Linked DNA regions of Homo sapiens: region 1 is linked to region 2. The links come from fine-mapping of genetic effects on plasma protein levels. Region 2 holds a variant in brackets. A gene starts in the other region. All regions are shown on their forward strands. Region 1 holds the start of IGFBP3 (insulin like growth factor binding protein 3). Region 2 holds the start of IGFALS (insulin like growth factor binding protein acid labile subunit).

The links. PIP is the posterior inclusion probability: the model's chance that the variant is causal. Protein levels are from antibody-based Olink assays in UK Biobank. Linkage for the fine-mapping came from a reference panel and not from the study's own genotypes, which makes the PIPs less certain.
Region 1: it holds the start of IGFBP3, and the variant in region 2 is fine-mapped to the plasma level of the IGFBP3 protein (UK Biobank, PIP above 0.99).

Annotation. Positions count from the first base shown.
Region 1 is chr7:45,910,432-45,921,499 of GRCh38, forward strand. It overlaps IGFBP3 (insulin like growth factor binding protein 3), which reads right to left and starts at 10,841. Exons shown (of 5, transcript NM_000598.5): 1 at 10,307-10,841; 2 at 6,782-7,008; 3 at 6,117-6,236; 4 at 4,374-4,514; 5 at 1,814-3,403. The coding sequence starts at 10,709. The coding sequence ends at 4,389. RefSeq lists an enhancer at 10,644-11,068.
Region 2 is chr16:1,788,745-1,799,937 of GRCh38, forward strand. NUBP2 (NUBP iron-sulfur cluster assembly factor 2, cytosolic) reads left to right here. Exons shown (of 7, transcript NM_012225.4): 7 at 1-442. IGFALS (insulin like growth factor binding protein acid labile subunit) reads right to left here and starts at 4,961. Exons shown (of 2, transcript NM_004970.3): 1 at 4,893-4,961; 2 at 1,669-3,657. The coding sequence starts at 4,908. The coding sequence ends at 1,856. The variant G/A (reference allele first, on the strand shown) is at 2,814.

The DNA.
Region 1 (11,068 bases), not on the chromosome of region 2:
CTTACTTGTTCATTTCTGTGTGTGTCTGCGTGCAGGTTGCTTGGGTACATGTGACCTTAGGGGTTAGTGGAAGCAAAAGCCCCAGGGAGCAGAAGTTGCCTGAGGAAGATGGCAGAGGATCAGAACCAAGGCAGGGAGGTAGAAGAACTGGAGGGTCCAGAGGAGAATGAGAGTATGCAATTTTAAGGTATTTACTGGAAGTGGCAGGAGAGCATTTAGAGGGAATAGTTGATCATAGGTATTGTGTCAGGGTTTCCCAGAGAAACAGAACTAACAGGTTATATCTATCTGTCTGTCTATCTATCTATCTATCTATCTATCTATCTATCTATCTATCTATCTATCATCTATGTATCTATCTCTGTCTAATCTACCTATCTATCTAATCTATCAATCTATCATCTATCTAGTCTATCTACCTACTTATCTCTAATCACCCACCAAAAAAGACTTATTACAAAAAATTGGCTAAGTATGGAGGCTAAGTCTCACCATCTGTAATCTGCAAGCTGGAGAACCAGGAAAGCTGGTGGTGCAATTCTGCCCACGCAGACAGAAAAAAGGCACAAACCCTTCTTTCCTCTGCCTTTTGTTCTATTCAGAACCTTAATGGATCGATGGATGCCTGCCCACATTGGGGAGGGCAATCTATTTTACTGAGTCCACTGATTTAAATGCTAATCTTATCTGGAAACACCTTCACAGATACTACGCTCACAGTATCACCCTCACAGATGCTGTACCTGGGCACCCCATGGCCCAGTCAAGTTGACACATAGAATTAATCATCATGAAGTGTGGGAAGCAGCAGAAGTTAGAGGTTAAGAAATGAGGACAAGAAAGGGCACATGAGTTGGTGGCTCCCAGGAAAACAAACCCAGTGGGCTTAGAAGGCAAGCATTATTTTGTAGCTCATAGCTCTTCAGCAGCTCCCAAGAGGTTGCCACGTTCCGGTCCTGGATTTCCAGACACTTGGCCTCGCTCCCCAGGTGCTCCAGGATTCTGCCGCACAACTCTCCGTGACGCTTGGTGCCTGCTCCCTGCAATGGGCTCCTTCTGCTCACTGTCTCCCTCCATCCTCACAGCCTTGCAGTCACAGCACCCCCAAGGGGCCTGCTTTCTCATTTGTCCTGGTTTCTCATGTGATCAGCCTGAGACCACACACCACAATACCAGTCCTCTGAACACTTACAGAACCGGCTTGCTGCTCATCACATACAACACGTGATAAGGGTATCATTTTAGATGTTTCATCAACAAATCAGACATGGCGCTAGACAGGAGGTAACTCGACAGGAGGTAACTCTTCGACTGCAGTTTATCCTTGGATGCTCTGAAGCCACAGGCTCAGTGTTTTGTCTAAAGTGGCTTTGACAAGTAACAATTCTTCCAAGGCTGCAGATGAGGGGGCTTAGATCCCAGAACCCCTTCTGCTTGGAGCAGAGAAGGGCCACTCTCTGATTGGAGATGGGAAGGGGACAAAGCGGTAAAGGACACGAGACTGAATTGCTGAGTGTCTGTTCTGGTCCTTCCCTGCTTGTCTGTGGATGGCTGCTAGTGTTAGATGGGACAATACAGGACACAACCCAAAAAAGGCAAGGACCAGTCACATAGGTGCACATTGCTGACCTGATCAAACCTGGGCCACAGACTGTCCCAACAACACAACCTCCTAGAATTGGACCATCTTGCAGATATGACCCAATGCCTCCATAGGCTTCCCACAAAGCCATGGAAACTGACTTGGGTTCTTTTGCTAAAAGGGAAAGCAGGGAAACATTTGTGGTTATGAAGTTTTCCACTACAGCTAAAATATTTTCCCCTTTCAGGATTTTATTATAATAAAATAATTATTATATAATAAAATAAAATAATTAGTGATACAAAGCCCAGAGATGGTCAATAACAAAGGGAAAGATATTTTTTTAATGGTAAAAACTTTATTTACTATTTATAAATACATTGCAAGACAAACTTCTCAAAAATACTTTTCCCCCCAAAAAGTTAAAAAAATAAAGAAAAGCTAATAGGTAGGCAGAATGTCTTGAGACCCCTCTGTTTTCAAGGAGAGCTCTATGCAGCGTGTGTCCACACCGAGGTCTGCAGCAGGGCAGAGTCTCCCTGAGCCTGACTTTGCCAGACCTTCTTGGGTTTGGCCTCCGGGAGAGCAGCCCAGTCTCTGGGCGTGAGCTCCTTTCCTCAGTCATGGCCACAGTTGTATCATATAGCATCTCTAACATTTCATCTAGGATTATCTAGTATAGATCTTACTATATTTGGGGCTATGTTGTATACAATGTTAACAAGAACATATCTTCTCTGCATATATGTGTGAATTATAAAGAAAAGCATGAGAATGACTCTAAGTTCAACAAACATGGGTGAATCTCTATGTGCTCCCAGTGTCCTGGATGGGCTCCCCAGCAAGCCATTCCTCCTTCCTGTTCTGATATTACTATTCTTTTTTACATTGTGCTAAGGAGGACAAAAGATGAGAGATGAAAATAAAGCTTTGCCTTTAAAGAGCTTATCCTCAGAAATAAGCTTCGTCTTGAGTTGTTGAACTACAAAACACTATTTTCTGCAGTCATCCGAAGAATTGTGCCATTACTTGTGATGCCTCTGAATGTGGAGGCTGACTCTCCCTGTCTCTCTGTCCCTCCTACCCCACGGGGCCGCAGCAAAAGCCATCCTGGGCCTTCGACTGGGCCATGTCTTCAGGAAGATTCCTGAAGAGGAGGGCCCGAAATACCTGCCTTTATAGGTTCCCAGAGTGCCCTAGAACATTCTTAGATACATATTTTTTAAACAAGTAGGACTCCACCTTATTTTCTCCAATAGTCCCCAAGCAGTACAGGTCACTTGAAGACATAAACATTCTTCTTGGTTGAGGGATCCACGCCCTTGTTTCAGAAATGACACCACAGAAGGCTGTGAGCTCCAGGAGCATGCGTTGGGATGTCCGGATGACCGGGGTTTAAAGGTTTTCCTATTCTCGATAAAGCCTGTGCGCACTGTACGGGGAGTGGGGGTGAAGCGTGTTCTCTACATAGGCAACACAGCCGCCTAAGTCACAAAGTCAGTGGTCGGCCGCTTCGACCAACATGTGGTGAGCATTCCACGGGCGCATGAAGTCTGGGTGCTGTGCTCGAGTCTCTGAATATTTTGATAGGAAGCGACAAGAAAATTCAAACTGCTCTTTGCTGACTACTGGAAAGTGAAAAGATGCTCAAGTTTACCATTCAAAGAAACCATAGGCATTTCAAAAACCTCTTTCTAAACTTTGGTTTAAAAAAAATCAGTTCACCACAAACAGAAATATAAATCGAGGCTGTAGCCAGCTGCTGGTCATGTCCTTGGCAGTCTTTTGTGCAAAATAAGGCATATTTGAGCTCCACATTAACTAAAACAAAAAGAAAAAGAAATATATTGAAATAATCCCCCCAAAATCAAAAGGGCTCGACTCTTGCCCTGAGATATCCAGCACAGCCTGCAGGCTAATGGCACTAGGCCTGCAAGTGCAGGGCTGGGGTCTCAACTCATGTTTTCAAACAAAGCAACGAGTACCAGATGCTGCTCACAGTGTTCATTGTCAAAGAGTTACCCTTAAATTAGAATTATTTTTTCCAACTTGTAAGGAAAAAAGAAACCCTTATAACTAAACATGCAAATTTCTTCTGCTTACTAAATTTGTCTTAATAAAATGAAAGAAAATGTATTTATTCCTTTCCCCCAATAGTTCCCTCATTTATTAAAAGAAAAAAGAAGACTGGATATAATAGCATTCTCTAAAATTATCGTTTAAAATTTCATTTTTCTATCAGATTTAAATTAACTTTATTAAAATTATATTAGCCACAGACTAACAGAATATTCATTATATATTTTACAGAAAAAAAAAGCTGCATCTTCAAACTGATGCTCTCCCAACTGAGCTATTTCAGCTGTCTCACATTCACATCTTTAATTTAGAAACATGTATCTTTAGCAGGTTCTTGCGGATTAAAACGGTTTCTCTGTGAAGATAAATGGACCTCCAGACCTCACGGGTAAAGCCTAACTTTGAAAATCTTCACTTTGTGTGTGGATGAATGATAGCTTAGGTGCTGTGAGGTATCTGAGATAAAGCAGAGTGTCCCTGAGGTGCACTGGCCGGCCTCCTTCCCCACACTTGTTTGGTTGGGTTGATGGGGTCTCCCTCTCCCTGCACCCTTCTGAGGGCTCTGTCCTATTTGCTTTGCTCTTTCTGGCCCTGAGCTGCAGCTCCTGGGTCTGTAAGCCTGGGGAAGGGCCAGTGGCCACGCCCAGCCCCTGAGGCTGGTCCAAGGACAGTGAGGCCCTGGAGCCCCAGGCTGCCCCTCCTGAGTACTCACCCTTGCGGCAGGCGTCTACTTGCTCTGCATGCTGTAGCAGTGCACGTCCTCCTTCCCCTTGGTGGTGTAGCCTGGGAGAGGCTGCCCATACTTATCCACACACCAGCAGAAGCCCCGCTTCCTGCCTTTGGAAGGGCGACACTGTGGGAGAGAAACAGAAGACAGAGAAGTGAATGCTCCTGGGTCTGGTGTCAGGTCGGTGGCCAGGGCGCATGATGGTTTGCCAGCGTGACTCTGCTATGCTGAGAAAGCACAACAGAAATTTCAGCTAAGGCAACACAAGAGCCATGCGTGCCTAGGCCCGCTGAGTGTGCGCCTGTGCATGCGTGTGGGTGTAACTTCCTGCTCCAAGAAAGCGGGGGTGGGGGCAGTTTTGTGTTTCTAGGAGTATAAGGTGGACACCAGCCCTTGTAGAACCTCTTGACTGACTTCTCTGCCAAATGTGGGACTGAGAACATCCCCGCTGCCTGCGAATGTCACAGCTATGACTTTGGAGCCCACATCCAGCCTCACATGACACCTTCTCAGTATGACTTTGTTGAATGAATATGACTTTGACAGAAAACGTGGGTATAAACGAGCAATGGCAATGGAGGAAAGCTTAGGCTTTCTGACTGTGGCCACTACTATGAATCCTAGTATATGGTCACCCTGAGGCCACTGTGGCTCACTTAGGTCTCCAAAGGCCAATTCTGTAGATAGCATAGTATCAATTGTCCAATTAGAAAGCCAATTGAAATAGTGCCATCACATAACACAAAGCCTATAGAAGCATATTTATTACAGCTTAATATTACTATATCTTAAATTTGTTTGATCATTTTCAGGTTAATTGGGATTTTAGGCATATGACTACATTTGGGGCTGATGTGTAGCCAGGATTCTCACTCCATTCCTTTTCCAGGAATGGGACTATGTTGCAATATAAAGATTTTGAAAAGACTGTTGTTTGATGTTGATGACTCTCATGCCTTCTTCTCACTTGGACTTTCTAGGGAAATGCCAGTGAGTCGGAGGAAGACCACATGGCCAGTTTGGAGAGACTGGCCATCCCCAGCATGGACCGAGTGTCTGATTTCAAGTTCCATCCCCTCCACGCCAAGACAGACACCTGGTATGTGCTGGGGATGGCTGGGCTCTCCAAGCTGGCCATGCTGCAGTCATCCCCCCACTCACTAGCATTTCCTTGAAAAGCCCAAGGGAGACAGAGACACACGAGTCACCAACATCTAGCAACAGCCTTTTCAAAATCTTAATATTGCAACCTGCTCACTATCGGGAAGGCATCAGTAGGAAAGGGGACGATTGTGGGATTTCAGGGTAAGCTTTTTGTGGTATGACCTCATGTCACACTTCTTGGAAACTGACTATAATAGTTGTTTGAAATGTCACTCCCTGACGCAGCATTAACAAATGTGTTAACATGTCCACTTGCAGTTTATAAAGGGTGCCACTGGGCAGCATCTTGTCCGCCCTGTGGGTGAACCATTGAAAGGACAGGAGTGGGAAGCGGGTGGTGGAAAGGCACTAGGGTTGAGGATTATGGCCAATATAGCAGCACTCAGAGCAACAAGTCAAAGCAGCCCTTGGTCTGACCTCCTGAGACTGGCACCAAGTCCTGGGCACTGGTGCTGCACAGGCTCAGAGTTAGAGCTATGGCCAGAAGAGCCTGGGGGCTGGTGAGATGGGTTTCTCCTCTGTGTCAACAGAAGAGGAAGAAAACACACTGAGGACCTCACTCACCTGCTTTTTCTTATAAAATCCCTTCTTGTCACAGTTGGGAATGTGTACACCCCTGGGACTCAGCACATTGAGGAACTTCAGGTGATTCAGTGTGTCTTCCATTTCTCTACGGCAGGGACCCTGGGGATCAGGAAGGACCAGAGCAACAGAGTCACAGTTTTTACTCTAGAATGTGTGCTTTAAAAATCTTACGATGCTGCACAACTACCAAAAGTGGGACCTGTAATTTGCTCCTCAGATACCTTATGTCTGATGTAGCACGAAAGTCCCCCGAATAAGCTAACCATCACTCCCTGTCTCCTTTTTGCTCTTCCCAGAGTAAGGCACAGAAGCTGGTATGGAACCAATAGCAGGTCAACAAGCATAGAGGATGAAGTAAATAAAACTATCTTTATGAGAATATTTTTCATTATCTGCAGAGGTCTTTATGACATCCCATATGCTTTTAAGAGTGTTATTTCAGCTTGATCCTCATAAGATTCTCCAAAAGGGTCAATATTCTTTATGTAAGGAGAGGAGAGAGGTAGGGCACAGAGGGGCTAGGGGTTGCCCACCCATCAGCCAGGCGCTGGGGTTTGTTGAGTAAGAATTGCCCTCAAGAGGCTCTGAGTACCCAGGCTTGGCAGGTCTTGCCCTCCTCCTTTAACAAGAGGAAAAGCTCTCACATATTCTGTCTCCCGCTTGGACTCGGAGGAGAAGTTCTGGGTATCTGTGCTCTGAGACTCGTAGTCAACTTTGTAGCGCTGGCTGTCTTTAGCATGCCCTTTCTTGATGATGATTATCTTTGAATGGAGGGGGTGGAACTTGGGATCAGACACCCGGTGCGTGCTGGAGACGGACGGGCTCTCCACACTGCCGGCGCTGCGGTCTTCCTCCGACTCACTAGCATTTCCTTAAAACGCCCAAGAGAGACAAACACATGAGAGTCATCAATATCTATCACAGTCTTTTAAAAATCTTAACGTTGCAACCAGGTCACATGTAAATGACAATATTAGTTGGCAATCCAAGTGAGTTTTTTTTTTTAAAATACCTCGATGAAGTATTATTCCATCATACTACTCACTACATGGTGGTTGCTCTACCTCAAGAAGTTATCTGTTTGAAAGTCAATCTGACAGGTGCTCTTCCTAAGTAGCTGCAACTAAAGAAGGCAGACAAACGCTTCAGTGCCCCTCAGTAGGTGAAGGCAGTATGCTTCATCTTCCACCGGCAGGGGGCAGACCTGAGCCACGGGAGGCTGCTGCAGCGCCGGCTCAGAAATTTTGCAGTCAACTCCAAGTGTGGTCCTCCCACCCGCGGGAGCAGCGGCAGCCCGGGGACTTGGAAGAAATGCACATTCTCCACTCCGGAAACGCTGGAGTGGCGGCAGCAGTCTGAGTTGTAACAAGCCCTTATGGGAATTCCAAGGTTGACCAGTACCGTCCTCAATGCTACCAGGTAAACACGCTTATAAGAGCTTGGTGTCCAGCTCAGATGGGAAAACTGAATTATTACCTGCAAAGCGTTTTGCCTCAGGGGCTCAGAATCATGCAAGCATGTTGGTGGCTTGTTTTCTAGGTCCCCGTTACATCTCTAAAACTCAAGGTCTACACAGACCCTGTGCATCTTGCTGGTGCCTGCCTAAGTGAGTCCTTTTCACCCCGGGTGAACACAGCAGCACATGGATGCAGACAATGCCAAAGTCCCACTCACGGCTCAGACTTCTAAGTGCCAAAGAGCTTTTCCTTCCCTGGGTGGGGGTGGGGTAGGAGAAATCCCCCTCCAGCAGATCTCCCTTTTATAATAAAAAGTGCTAAATGAAGAAAGTCTGATGCTTAAAATGGATGCTGGAATGTTAACAGTTGAATTGGAATTTTAAGTATATGACTAAATTCAAGACTGGATCTGCAGCCAGGATTCTCACTCCATTCCTTCTTCAGAATGAACTTGGAGGGGCTGTAAGACCGCTATGGGGATCAAAGGCTACATTCAGAGCCCATGCTCCCAGGGCCTGTGGACCATGCCAAGGTCTGGAGGCATCGGCTTAAGTCCACAATTGAGAGTCATGAAATTTCTCTACTACAACAAACAGGGCTATAATGTGTAACCCTAGCAGGGAGCTCAGGTGGCCCATCTGGTCCACAGTCTATTCTAGAAAGCTACCTGGGGCTGCAATGATTTGGCTGCAGATGCTCTGCTCTCCCCTGGAAGTGGCTACTGGCAGGTCACTCACCAGGGCCTTAGGAAAGTCCCTCTCCTCTCTGGGTCTTAGTTTCCTCACCTGCCAAACAGCTCACTGAGGTCCTGCTGTAAAGTTCCCCAAGGGGTTTCATACCTTGGGAAGCACACATTCCCAGGGTCCAGCACAGAGCCTCACAGAGGAGGTCCCTACCTGCGAGGATTTGGTTTCAATTTCTTTTAATCTTAGCTTGCTTTCTTTTTCAAGGAAATACTGAGATAAAAGAGATACTAAGAATGTAAATACTCTAAGAACATGTAAATAAACGTATTTATACTTCTTTTCTAAGAACCTTGAGTAATTTCTTAAATTTCCTTGGTTTCTTCTTAATGCCTGGGCTGCAGACTAGGGCATGAAGACAAAACAGTTCTATTTAAGCAACAGATAATTGTGACTTTTGACTGTCGAAAATTTACCTTTTTTTGTCAAATAGATTCTAGAAGTCACTTAGATCTTTTTATAATCTTATAACTCACATCAACCTATACTACAGTGCTACTAAGGTGGTAATCATGATGATTGCTAAAGCCCAAGAATGACGATGTGTATCAGTATTTCTAAGATCACTTTTTGAATACCCCAAAATGCACAATAATGTACGACACTTGGCAAATGACATAACTTTGCCCCGAGAGACAAATGCCTCCAGCAGCTTTAACAGCTGACCAGAGCCAGTGTATGTTTCAGGCATCTTGCCTTTCCATGAATCCAGCATTTCTCAGGGGTGAACAGAGCCAGCCTTGCCGAGCCAGAAAATAACTTCACCCGGGCGTGGAACTCTACAGCTACATAAATTATAAAGGGACTGTTCATCCTGCTAGCCCTAGATGGGGGCCTGCCCAGTGACATCTGTCCAACGTGATCGTTGGGGAGTTGGGGGAATTAGGATGGGGAGAATTCTCCCAGCCTTCAGCTGTGCAAGGCAGGAACTTTATTTCTCATATAACTAGGTGAGGCTGGCTAAGAATGCTTGAAAGAACAGCTGCCAAATCCATTTAAACAACCCCCGCTCCTTTTTTTAAGGGAACAATGTGATGCCCTTACCAGAGTCGCTGTCTGCCTGATACTGATAGTGGCTAAGCCAAGAGGGTAACTCTGCCAAATGTTTGCATTTTTCCTCTTCTGGGGCTCCCCTTAACAACATCTCATTCCCCCCCCCATTTCAGATTAAGAAGGGAGACAGCCCTAGGACTGATTCCAATTCCCTTCCGTGTCATTGAAATTGACTTAGTCCACATTGCCCGCACCCACCACGCACCTGGAAGTTTGTTTGAGGTCGGCGCAGGTGCAGGGGTGGCCCGAGTTGTAAGAATGGTATGGTACTGAAAGTGGCACGCGGAGTTCAAACCTACACTCTGTTGTGGCCGCTGGGTAACCTTAAGAAGTTACTTCTTTTTCAGCTTCAGGTTTTCCAACCGCAGAAGATATCAAAACCCGAATCCACTTTACTTGTTTTTGGACATACCGGGACTAGACATTGCTTTGCAAACCAAAAGGCTGTGCAAAGTCAGTATTTTAAAAGAGAGGTACTATTTCCTACAACGTGCCTGCCCACCTTCCTTGGTCCAAATCCGCCTATATCCCCCCCATCCCCAAGCATCCCTGGGATTGCAGTCCGTGTGCACCCCCGTGCGGGGCGAGGAGAATCTCCTGTGTCCAGGATCTTTCCAACAGCTAAACATCGGTACCGCTCCCCTCAGCTCCGGAAACCTTTAACCCATTTTCACTGAAAGCGCTTTGCAATTTACAAGTACTCTGCACTTAGAGAATCGAGCAAGTAGAGGGCCGGCTGGGGAGGGTCCCTCCGGCGACCGCCTTCACCTTTCCCGGAGCGCCTTCAGTTTCCCCACATATTATCTCCAGTGAGAAGAAAAGCGGAGTCTCCCGCAGCGGCACCCAGCAACCCCCAGGCCCTTCGGCGCCAGTGCGCCGGGTGCTGCACGCAGCGCACCTGGCGCGGGCGGCTCACCTGGAGCTGGCGGCGCTGGCAGCAGGTAGGCGCGCAGGCGGCTGACGGCACTAGCGTTGACGCAGAGCCCGCGGCCGTCCAGCAGCGCCTGCAGCGGTCGCGCCTCGTCGGGCGACGGCTGGCAGCGAAGGCCGGAGCCACAGCGCTCGGTGTAGATGCCGCACGGCTGGCCCTCGCTCAGTGCGCACGTCAGGCAGCAGCCGCAGCCCGGCTCGCGCACCAGCTCCGCGCACACGGCGGGCGGAGGCGCGCACTGGGCCAGTGCACGCGCGTCGCACGGCTCGCAGCGCACCACGGGACCCAAGCCCGCCGAGCTCGCGCCAGCCCGCGCCACCGGCGGCCCGCGGAGCAGCACCAGCAGAGTCAGCGCAGCGGCCCAGAGCGTGGGTCGCGCCCGCTGCATGACGCCTGCAACCGGGGCACGCTGCTTGGCAGGCTGGGCGCGCAGGGATGGGGCGACAGTACACGGCGCGAAGCTGTGGAATCCAGGCAGGAAGCGGCTGATCCTCAGCGCCCAGCCGCAGTGCTCGCATCTGGGCGGCCCGGGCGCGCCGGCCGCTATATAGAAGCCGGGGTGGCCCAGGACACGCCCCGGAACGGCGCGCCCAGGAGTGGGGGTTGGGAGGGGGGCGGGTCGGCGCAGGCACGGCTGCGGGGGCCCGTGCTTCGCCCTGAGCAGCCGGGGCCGAGCTCGGGGGCGTGCAGCTCGAGACTCGCCCGGGCACCTGCTCCTCGTGCGCACGCCCGGAGCCCGGGTCACCT
Region 2 (11,193 bases):
CCACCAAGGGCTCTGCTCCAGCCTCTCAGAGAAACAGAGGCCTGGGCTCGGTTCCCGGGCCCTGCAGGGGCAGGCCCAGGCAGCGTCAGCCGGAGAGCTTCTCCCCGACCAGCCCAGCCCCAGGATGTGTCGCACCAGCAGCTCTGCCTGGTTGGCCTGCAGTGCCGTGGTCTGCGTGCTCTGCAGCTGTGAGACGGGGGCGGCCTGGGCTCTCTTCCCATCCATGTTGCCTACCTGTGCCCCTGGCAGCCGCGTGTCCACACAGTTAGCGGAGCGCGGGACTTCTGCAGTCCTCAGGTGACCCCGGGCCTCCAGCACCCTGGGTCGCTGTCATCTGTGTTTAGCTCGGGGAGTGCCCCCTAAGGGGGCGAACTGACCTCAGGCATGTTTTGTAACTGTAGAGGCGCCTGCCATTAAACGTGTCCGCTGCTGTGGCGACAGATCTGATGTTTCTAGAGTCTTCTGTCCTTCGGGGTCAGACAGCACCTGCTTCTGTAAGTTTCTGGGCTGGACTGGGCCAGGCCGGCAGGTTCGTTCGTTCCGTTGTCAACAAGCCCCTGGGCCCAGGTGCTGATGTGTTTGCATCTTATTTGGTGGGAATTCGGGGAGATTTTGTGATAAACCTGACAGCTGGCCCCTTCGCCGTGGAAGAATGGCCTCCCTGGGACACTAAAGGGGCCCCTCCCGGGACAGAGACCAGAAGTCAGGTTGAGAAGGGAGCTCCAATCCCAGGGGTCCCCTGCACCTCTTCCCAGTGAGACCCGAAAGGAAAGCCCTTCCAGAAAGCAGAACGCGCCATTTTTCCCAAAGGAAGAGCTCAGCCTTCAGCAGGGGAGGACCCTGGAGGTGGGGGCCCGGAACCAACCCGGGCGGCCTCTGGGTGGGTGAGAGGGCACCAGGAGCACCTGGGCTGACGATGCCGGTGCCTGGGGGGGGCAGAGACAAACGCCCACGGCATCTGCAGGGGGTGCGGCTTCCCACGCAAGGCGGACGGCCCGCCCCGCGCTCCCTCCTCACCCCACCTCAGCCGCGCCCTGGCTGCCTGGACCACACCCCTCGGGGACACTGCCTGGTCCTCAGGGCGATCCCTCAAAGAGGAGGGGTGAGACGCAGAGCCCCTGGGGATTCGAGTTGGTGCCATCATTCCTGGAGGATGTTCTGGGGAGCCCGAGGGGCAGCCACGGGGACCAGGAAGACACATGGGTGTGGGGCAGTTGGCCAGGGCGGTGGCGGGGCAGGATCCAGGCGGGGGCCCTGGGCGTGGCCAAGCCGGGGAGGAGAGAGGTGAGGAGACCAAGGCGTACCCAGGCAACACCATCCTCCCCTCCCCTGAGCCAGGTGGGTTTTTTTGAGACAGGGTGTTGCTCTGCCGCCCAGGCTGGAGTGCAGTGGTGCAGTCTTGGCTCACGGCAGCCTCTACCTCCCAGGCTCCAGTAGTCCTCCTGCCTCGGCCTCCCTAGGACCACAGGCATGGGCCACCATGCTATGCTAATTTTTTTTATTTTTTGTAGAGACGGGGTCTCTCTTGTGTTGCCCAGGACGGTCTCTCAAACTCCTGGGCTCAAGCGATCCGCCCGCCTCGGCCTCCCAAAGCTCTGAGACCACAGCTGCGCGCCGAGCCCCCAGCCCCCTCCCTGGTTTCACGTTCGCAGTCACCCACTGTGCCTGTTAGATTCGATTGCCTTTGCCTTTAATTGATGACAGCTGGGGGGGCCGCCATGCCTTCCACCCCATCAGGCCCTTGCGTCTTCCAGCAAGTGCACTGGGCAGGCCCCTGAGGACACTGAGGACCTGTCCCCAGCACAAGGTGAGCCAGGTGGGGGCCTGAGTCCGGGGCTTGAGTCCGGGGACCTGGTCAGCAGGGAGCAAAGTGGGCCTCGCTGAGGTCCCGCAGGTCGAGCCCCACGACCTCGGGCGGGCTGGCACAGGTGATGTTGTTGTAGGTGTACGCGGGCGGCTGGCAATCGTCCCCCTCACAGATGGCCTGGACGAAGCGGGGCACAGCACTGGGGTTCTGCAGGGCGAAGTCCCGCAGCGCCTTGAGAGGGCAGCCACAGTCCCAGGGGTTACCCTCCAGCCACAGGCGCTCCAGGCCCGGGGGCTGCGGCGTGAAGGTCCGCAGTGAGTTGTTCCTGAGGCTGAGGTAGCGCAGCCGCCCCAGTGGTGCCAAGAGGCTGTTGGGCAATGCCTCCAGGCGGTTGTGCGAGACGTCCAGCCAGAAGGCCCGCTGCAGGGGGCCCAGGGCGTCCGCCGGCAGCTCTGCCAGGCGGTTGCGGGAGAGCAGCAGGTACTCCAGCTTGCCCAGGCCCTGGAAGAGGCGGTGGGGCAGGTGCGTGAGCTGGTTGGAGGTCAGGTCGAGCTCCAGCAGCTCCGCCAGCCCCCACAGGCTCTGCTCCTCAATGCCCACGAGGCCGTTGTCCTTGAGGAAGAGTCGGCGGAGCCCCGAGAGGCCGGTGAAGGTGTGCGGGCGGATGCGTCCCAGGCAGCTGCCCTCCAGGTGCAGGCTGTGCAGCTTGCCCAGGCCCCGGAACACCTGCTCCGGAAGGTTCCGGAGACAGTTCCCAGAGAGGTTCATGACCGCCACGTTGGTGAGGCCGAGGAAAGCGCCCGCCTTGACCTCCTGGAGCTGGTTGTGGTCTAGCGTGAGCACCTCAAGCTGCCCCAGGCCCTCAAAGCTGCGCTCAGCCAGCTGCCGGATGCGGTTGTGGCCCAGCTGCAGCTCCTCCAGGAAGTGCAGGTCCTTGAAGGTGCGGGGCCGCAGGCTGGCGATGGCGTTGTGGGACAGCCGCAGCACACGCAGGCCCAGCAGACCG[G/A]GGAACGTGTCCTCCAGGAGGCCAGCCACGCGGTTGTGGGACAGGTCCAGCCATCGCAGCGCCTTCAGGCCCAGGAAGGCGCCCGGGGCCACGGCAGCGATGAGGTTGCGGTCCAGGTAGAGTTTCTGGAGCCGGGGCAGCTGCACGAACACGTTTGCCTTGATGGCCCGCAGCGCGTTCCTGCTCAGGTCCAGCTCCCGGAGCTCGGCCAGGCCGCTGAAGAGCGCGGGCTGCAGGTAGGCCAGCCTGTTGCCCGCCAGCACCAGCTCGCGCAGGCTGCCCAGGCCGCGGAACGCCGCATCGGGGAGCACCGCCAGGCTATTCCAGCCGAGGTTGAGGTCCCAGAGGCTGCCGAGGCCCTCGAAGAGCCCGTCCTCCAGCCTGCTCAGACGGTTGTTGCTGAGGCCGAGCGAGGCCAGCGCGGGCGTGTGTGCAAACGTGCCGAGTGCCAGGCTGCGCAGCTGGTTCCGCTCCAGGTGCAGGTGGCACAGGTTCTCTAGGCCCAGCAGCGCCTGTGGCTCCAGGCTGCCCAGCTGGCCGCCCTGCAGGTTGAGGAAGCCCAGGCTGGAGAGGTTCTGGAAGGCTGCCGGGGGGACGGACGAGAGGTTGTTGCCGTCCAGCCACAGGGCTTGGGTGCCGCCCGGGACTCCATCAGGCAGGCGCGTGAGGTTCCTGGAGCTGCAGAAGACGCTGAGCTCATCCGCGTCGTCATCGTAGCTGCAGACACAGGCGGCCGGGCACGCTGGGCCCTCGGCTTCCCCCGGCGTTCCGGGGTCTGCTCCCTCCAGGCTGCGGGGGCCCAGTGCCACCCAGGACAGCAGCAGCAGCGCCAGGGCCAGGCCTCCTGCGGGGGGAGAGGCTTGGGGAGGCGGCCCGAGGAGGGCTCTGCCCGAGTGAGCCTGATACCAGCACAGCCGGAAGCGGCGCTCAGGTGTGAACTGAGGCTCGAGGTCACCCGCTGAGATGCGAAGAAGCCGGTGAGCCCCACAGGTCCTCCGGCTCAAAAGCTGACACTGCGCTTCCCACCCCATGGGACAGAGGAGTGGCCGCCCCGCCCCGCTGCACAGACGCTCAGGGCTTGGCTCTCCAGCTGTGCGCAGGCCACGTGGGCTCGGCCAGGCTGGGTCTCGGGCTGTCTGGCCATGTGGCAGCCGCACCCCCAAGGCAGGCGCTTGAGCCAGGCCAGTCTGCCACGTTGGCCTAGAGGAAGGGGAGGGAACTGAGCCATTGGCCAAGGTCCGGCCATTTTCAGAATATTCTGCAGCAGGTCTTGGTGGGCACTCGCTCACTGCCCTCAGAGGCTGGACAGGGAGCTGGGCACCTCCTGCCCCAGTTAGGCCCCCCAGCGGGGTCTCACCTGCCTGCATCCAGGCCTTGGTCGGGTGCTGCGGGAGGGGACCGGGGCACCGCCGTCGGGGGACAGGTAGGAACCCTGGACCGTCGGCCACCAAAGCTCACATTGCCTTTCAGGACAAGGGGCCACAGGCCCCACAGACCCAGCCAGCAGGCTCCCAAGCAGCGATGACCCAAAACCTCTACTGTATGGCCCCCCCATCCTCAGAGAGTGTGGAATTGCTGGGATGGTGGCAGGGGCGAGGTGGGGCCCCCCCGACTGCCCTTCTGTCACGATGGGTTGGGAGTGGCCTGAGCCAGCTCTGGAGCTCAGCTCAGGCTTGGGGGTGGCCGAAGCTGCAAGGGGTCACCCCACAGAGACAATGGGGTGTGAGCCAACGTCTCCTGCCTGGGCCGGGCCCACAACGCGGGCCGTGCGGGGCACTTCCCGCCGCTGTGCTGGGAGCTGAAGGGTCCGGCCTGCACCTGGCCCTCCTCCCCTGTGCCGCCGCCAGCGCCCTTAGGGTGGAGGACGGGACAGAGACCCCTGGTGCCAGGCACAGCTGTGTCCCCCTGCCAACCCCAGCAGCCGCATTTCCGACTGTGGGCTCCCCAGAGTCCCCCGCAGACCCCCAGAGCTGAGCCCCCCAGAGCTTCCTTGGGGGCTACCCCGGCCTCTCCCCAGCGGGCTCAGGGTCACAGACTGGCCACCCCTAGAGTGGGTGGCGGGGCACTCGGGGGCCTCACCTTTCCTCAGGGCCATCCTGCATGCAGGGCAGGCTGCAGGCAGGCAGCGAGGGAGGGTACGTCTGCTGTGCCGGCCACCCCTGCCCTCTGGATTTCCCCACTGCGGGGCAGCCCGCGCCTGTCACCTGGCTGGCCCAACCCAGCTGGCCCTGGCTCTGTTAACCCCCTCGTGCCGGGCGGCCGGCATCAGCCCGGAGCCCTGGGGTGCAGACAGTGCAGGGGGTGAGGGAGCTTCAGTCGGGGCCCGAGGTAGCCGTAATGCGGCCCTGGGGGCTGACGGCCAGTGCCCGGGCCCCCTGCAGGGCTGACTGGGGAGGGCTGGGCAGCCAGGTTGGGGTGGGGACCCCTTGCAGCAGCCTGGGAGGGGCTGGGGCTTGAGGCCGGTTTGGGGAGCCCAGGGTTTTACCAGGTCCTGTTGCGGGCAGGGGGCTCCTCGGGCAGCTCCTGGGGTCTTGAGCCCACCCCTGGCCTGAGTAGCCAGCCGTGTGGGGCTAAGGGGCTGCCGCCCCTTCCCCGTGCCCCACCCAGCCATCCACCCGCCCTCCCGGGGGTTCCCTACAGCCTGGGTGGGAGCTGCCGTTTGGGCTTCAGGCCCACGGTGCTGTCCAGGGCCCAAGCTCACCCTGCCTCTCCCGTGACCCCAGGGGCGCTGGTGTCTGGCCACTGCCCCGCCCCCAGCCTCTTCTAGGAATGCCTGGCAGGGCTGCAGGCGCCTGTTTGCTTTTGCCCTGCGCCATCCTCGGGGAGTGTGTGGGGGTGGCCTGGCCATGGGAGCCAGGTCTTGTGCCTCAGACAAGCCTCACCTGCCCCTTGCTGTCCCCCAAGGCTCTGGTGAGGGCCTGGCCGCCCCACAGTCACCGCTTGTGTGCAGAGAGGCCACAGGAATGTGTGCCCAGCCATGTCCAAGGCCACCCCTGGGCTCCGTCTCCACCTGCCTCCAGAGGCCCCTGGTTCCCCTCCACCTGCTCAAACCACTTCCCAACCAGTCGCTCTCTCCCCCAGGGCCTGAGCAGGTGCAGCCCCTCCCCTCCAGGTCCCTGCAGGCCCCTCCCCTGGCTGTCAGTGGGGCCTGCCCACCAGTCCCTCGGCAGTGGGAAAGTGTGCAGGGAAGCAGCCGGAAGGGGTGCAGGCGGGGGCACAGCCAGGGCTCGGGGAGACCACAGTTTTCCAGGGCCCTACCCCATCCTCAGCTCCGGCCTCACCTGGCAGGCCCCGTGCAGAGCTGTGGGAAGCCGCCGGCCCACTGTCATCGTCTTCCCTTTATCGAGAATTGATCATTTTCCAGGTGGCGTCTCGGCTCCTCTTCTGAGAAATTATAGATCCACGGGGAGAAAGTCCACACCCAGAAAGACCCACGATCCGTTTACTCAGCAGAAAACGCAGACTCAGCAGGGGCCTGGGGCCTGAGGCCAGCAGACCCGGGCGGCCTCCTCTCAGGAGAGGTCCCCGTGGGGGCCCCGGCCTCCGTCAGGCCGCGCACCCCACCTGGGAGCCCCACACATTCCAGGTGGGAAGGGAGAATCTGTCCCTGTTCTCTTCCTTTGGGAGGGGCCGGGTGTCGCGGGCGGGCAGAGCCTCACCAGGGTTGCGGCAGCCGCGTAAGGGGGCTCCAGGCCTCTTTGATTCCTGTGGTAACGCAGAGGCCTACACACACATTCAGCCCATTGAGTTCCAGAGGCCCCCATCACTGCCGCCACCCCCAATGGCCCCACTCCCCGTGGCCTCTCCCAGCTCAAGGCCGGTGGCCTCCCAGGCTCCTCCATGAGCCGCATTCTGCCTGTCTTCAGGCCGCACAGGGCCTGGCTTTCTGTAGGACAGGACCCGAGGGAGGTGAGGCCATGTCTAGGTCACGTCCTGGAATACATCTGTCCCTGTCCTTCTCACTGTTTCCAGCAATGCCACCGAGCCCTGTGGCTCTGCATCCTGTGGGTGCATACCTGTCTACACTCAGGCCAGTGGCGAGTGGACGGTGGCCATCACCTGGGAGACCGAGCATCTTGTCCAGCACACAGCCACAGGGTCATCTGGCCTCAGCCACTGCTGGTTTCGGTCTCTTGCCGATTTTCTAGTTAGCTGGCTGATTTCTGATTTGCAAGATACAAGAAAAAACAAAAGCATTCAGCACGCACACTCAGGTGTGTGGCCTTTCTGTCCTCTCGTTAGGATTCTGGTGAGTTTTTTTTTTTTTTTTTTTTTTGAGATGGAGTTTTGCTCGTTGCCCAGGCTGGAGTGTAATGGTGCGATCTCAGCTCACTGCAACCTCTGCCTCCTGGGTTCAAGCAGTTCTCCTGCCTCAGCCTCCCAAGTAGCTGGGATTATAGGCATGAACCACCACACCTGGCTAATTTTTATTTTATTTTATTTATTTATTTTTTGAGATGGAGTCTCAGTCTGTTACCAGGGCTGGAGTCCAGTGGTGTGATCTCCGCTCACTGCAACCTCCACCTCCCATGTTCAAGCGAGTCTTCTGCCTCAGCCTCCCAAGTAGCTGGGATTACAGGCATGAGCCACCACGCCTGGCTAATGTTTTGTATTTTTAGTAGAGACAGGGTTTCACCATGTTGGCCAAGCTGGTCTCAAACTCCCGACCTCGGGTGATTTGCCGGCCTCGGCCTCCCAAAGTGCTGGGATTACAGGTGTGAGCCACCGTGCCCAGCCCCTAATTTTGTATTTTTAGTAGAGACAGGGTTTCTCCATGTTAGTCAGGCTGGTCTCAAACTCCTGACCTCAGGTGATTTGCCTGCCTTGGCCTCCCAAAGCTCTGGGATTACAAGCGTGAGCCACCGGGCCGGCGAGAGTTCTTAATTTTAATTGAGATGATATCCCTTAAATGTTGAGGTTGATTCCTCAGATACCAACAACAAAGATGATTTGGTTTGGCCTCACATCCCCACCCAAATCTCACCTTGAACTGTAATAATTCCCATGTGTCAAGGGCAGGGACAGGTGGAAACAACTCAATCAGGGGGCAGTTTTCCCCATACTGTTGTGGTAGTAACTCTCATGAGACCTGATGGTTGTTTTTGTTTTTTGTGTGTTTGTTTGAGATGGAGTCTTGCTCTGTCTCCCAGGCTGGAGTGCAGTGGCACAATCTCGGCTCACGGCAAGCTCCACCTTCCAGGTTCATGCCATTCTCCTGCCTCAGCCTCCCAAATAGCTGGGACTACAGGTGCCCACCACTACGCCCGGCTAATTTTTTGTATTTTCAGTAGAGATGGGGTTTCACCGTGTTAACCACGATGGTCTCGATCTCCTGACCTCGTGATCCACCCGCCTCAGCCTCCCAAAGTGCTGGGATTACAGGCGTGAGCCACTGCGCCTGGCTGAGACCTGATGGTTTTATAAATGGGAGTTCCCCTGCAGACGCTCTCTTGCCTGCCGCCGTGTAAGACCCTCTGCCTTCCGCCATGATTGTGAGGCCTCCCCAGCCATGTGGAACTGTGAGTCCATTAAACCTCTTTCCTTTATAAATTACCCAGTCTCAGGTATGTCTTTATCAGCAGCATGAGAAAAGACTAATACAGTAAATTATTACTGTAATAATTATTATTACAGTGGGACACTGCTGTAAAGATACCCAAAAATGTGGAAGTGACTTTGGAACTGGGTAGCAGGCAGAGGTTGGAACCGTTTGGAGGGCTCAGAAAAGGACAGGAAGATGTGGGAAAGTCTGGCGCTTCCTAGACTTGCTGAATGCCTTTGACCAAAATCCTGATAGTGATATGGCCAACAAAGTCCAGGCTGAGGTGGTCTCGGAGAAGAGGAACTTGTAGGAAACTGGAATAAAGGTGACTCTTGCTATGTTTTAGCAGAGACTGGTGGCATGTTGCCCCTGCTCTAGAGATTTGTGGAACTTTGAACTTGTGAGAGATGATTTAGGGCATCTAGTGAAATAAATTTTTTTTTTTTTTTCTGAGATGGAGTCTCACTTTGTCACCCAGGCTGGAGTGCAGTGGCGCAATCTCGGCTCACTGCAACCACTGCCTCCCATGTTCAAGCGATTCTCCTGTCTCAGCTTCCTGAGTAGCTGGAACTACAGAAGCACGCTGTCACACCCAGCTAATTTTTGTATTTTTAGTAGAGACAGGGTCTCACCATGTTGGCCAGGAGCGTCTTGATCTCCTGACCTTGTGATCTGCCCGCCTTGGCCTCCCAAAGTGCTGGGATTACAGGCATGAGCCACTGCGCCCAGCCAGTGAAAGAAATTTCTAAGCAGCAAACTGTTCAAAATGTGACCTGGATGCTGTTAAAAGCATTCAGTTTTATGTATTCACAAAGATATGGTTTGGAATTGGAACTTATGTTTAAAAGGGAAGCCAACCATAAAAGACTGAAAAATTTGCAGCGTGATGATGCCATAAAACAGAAAAGCCCATTTTCTGAGGAGAAATTTAAGCTGGCTGCAGAAATTTGCATAACAAGGAGCCAAATGTTAATCACCAAGACAGTGGGGAAAATGTCTCCAGGGCATGTCAGACGTCTTCAGGGCAGCCCCTCCCATCACAGGCCCCGAGGCCTAGGAGGAAAAAATGGTTTAGTGGACCAGACCCAGGGCCTTGCTGCTTTGTGTAGTCTCGGGTGCCCTGCCTCCCAGCCATGGCTAAAGGAGCCAAGGTACAGCTCAGACTGTTGCTTCAGAGGGTGCAAGCCCCAAGCCTTGGCAGTTTCCATGTGGTATTGGGCCTGCAGATGCCCAGAAGTCAAGAATTGAGGTTTGGGAGCTAGGTGCAATGGCTCACGCCTGTAATCCCAACACTTTGGGAGGCCGAGGCAAGTGGATCACCTGAGGTCAGGAGTTTGAGACCAGCCTGGCCAACATGGTGAAACCGTGTCCCTACTAAAAATACAAAAATTAGCCAAGCATGGTGGTGCACGCCTCTAGTCCCAGCTACCTGGGAGGCTGAGGTGGGAGAATCACTTGAACCTGGGAGGCAGAAGTTGCAGTGAGCCAAGATCATGCCACTGCACTCCAGCCTGGGTGACAGAGCAAGACGCCATCTCAAACATAAATAAATTAATAAATTAAAAATTCAGGTTTAGGAACCTCTGCCTGGATTTCAGAGGATGTATAGGAACTACTGGATGTCCAGGCAGAAGTGTGCTGCAGGGGTAGAGTCTTCACAGAGAACCTCTGCTAGGGCAATACGGAAGGGAAATGTGGGGTTGGATCCCTCCACAGGGTCCCTACTAGGGCACTGCCTAGTGGAGCTGTGAGAAAAGGGCCACCATCCTCCAGACCCCAGAATGGTAGATCCACCGACAACAGCTTGCACCATGGACCTGGAAAAGCCACAGACACTTGTCACAAGCCTGTGAAAGCAGCTGGGAGGGGGGCTGTACCCTGCATAGCCACAGGGGTGGAGCTGCCCAAGGCCTTGGGAACCCAGCTCTTGCATCAGTGTGATCTGGATGTGAGACATGGAGTCAAAGGAGATCATTTTGGAGCTTTAAGATTTGACTGCCCTGTTGGATTTCAGATTTGCCTGGGGCCTGTAGCCCCTTTGTTTTGGCCAATTTCTCCCATTTGGAATAGGTGTATTTACCCAATGCCTGTACCCCCACTGTATCTAGGAAGTAACTCACTTGGCTTTTGATTTTACAGGCTTATAGGCAGAAGGGACTTGCTTTGTCTCAGATGAGACTCTGGACTTGGACTTTTGGGTTAATGCTGGAATGAGTTAAGACTTTGGGGGATGGCTGGAAGGGCATGATTGTGTTTTGAATTGTGAGGACATGCGGTTTAGGAGGGGCCAGAGGTGGAATGATATGGTTGGGCTGTGTCCCCACCCAAATCTTATCTTGAATTGTAGTTCCCATAATCCCCACATGTTGTGCACGGGACCCAGTGGAATGGCCGAATCATGGGCGTGGTTCCTGCCATCCTGTTCTCTTGAAAGTGAGTTCTCATGAGATCTGATGGTTTTATAAGGGGCTTCCCCCTTCACTGGGCACTAATTTCTCTCTCCTGCTGCCATGTGAAGAAGCACATGTTTGCGTCCTTACCCACCATGATTGTAAGTTTCCTGAGGCCTCGCCAGCCTTGTGGAACTGCAAGTCAATTAAACCTCTTTTCTTTATAAATTACCCACTCTCAGGCAGTCCTTTATAGCAATGTGAGAATGGACTAATGCAGATGGGAAAACGGCAAAATTCTTAATGTCCTCTATTTTATTTTTACGGTTTCAAGTACTATTTTGTGCCAACACTGTCCTGTTTTCCCTTCTAATCGGCCTCTTAAGAGGGAGAGGCCAGGCTCAGGGTTAACTGTTCCCGTGTGGTGGTTACCATCAGCCTCTGTGCC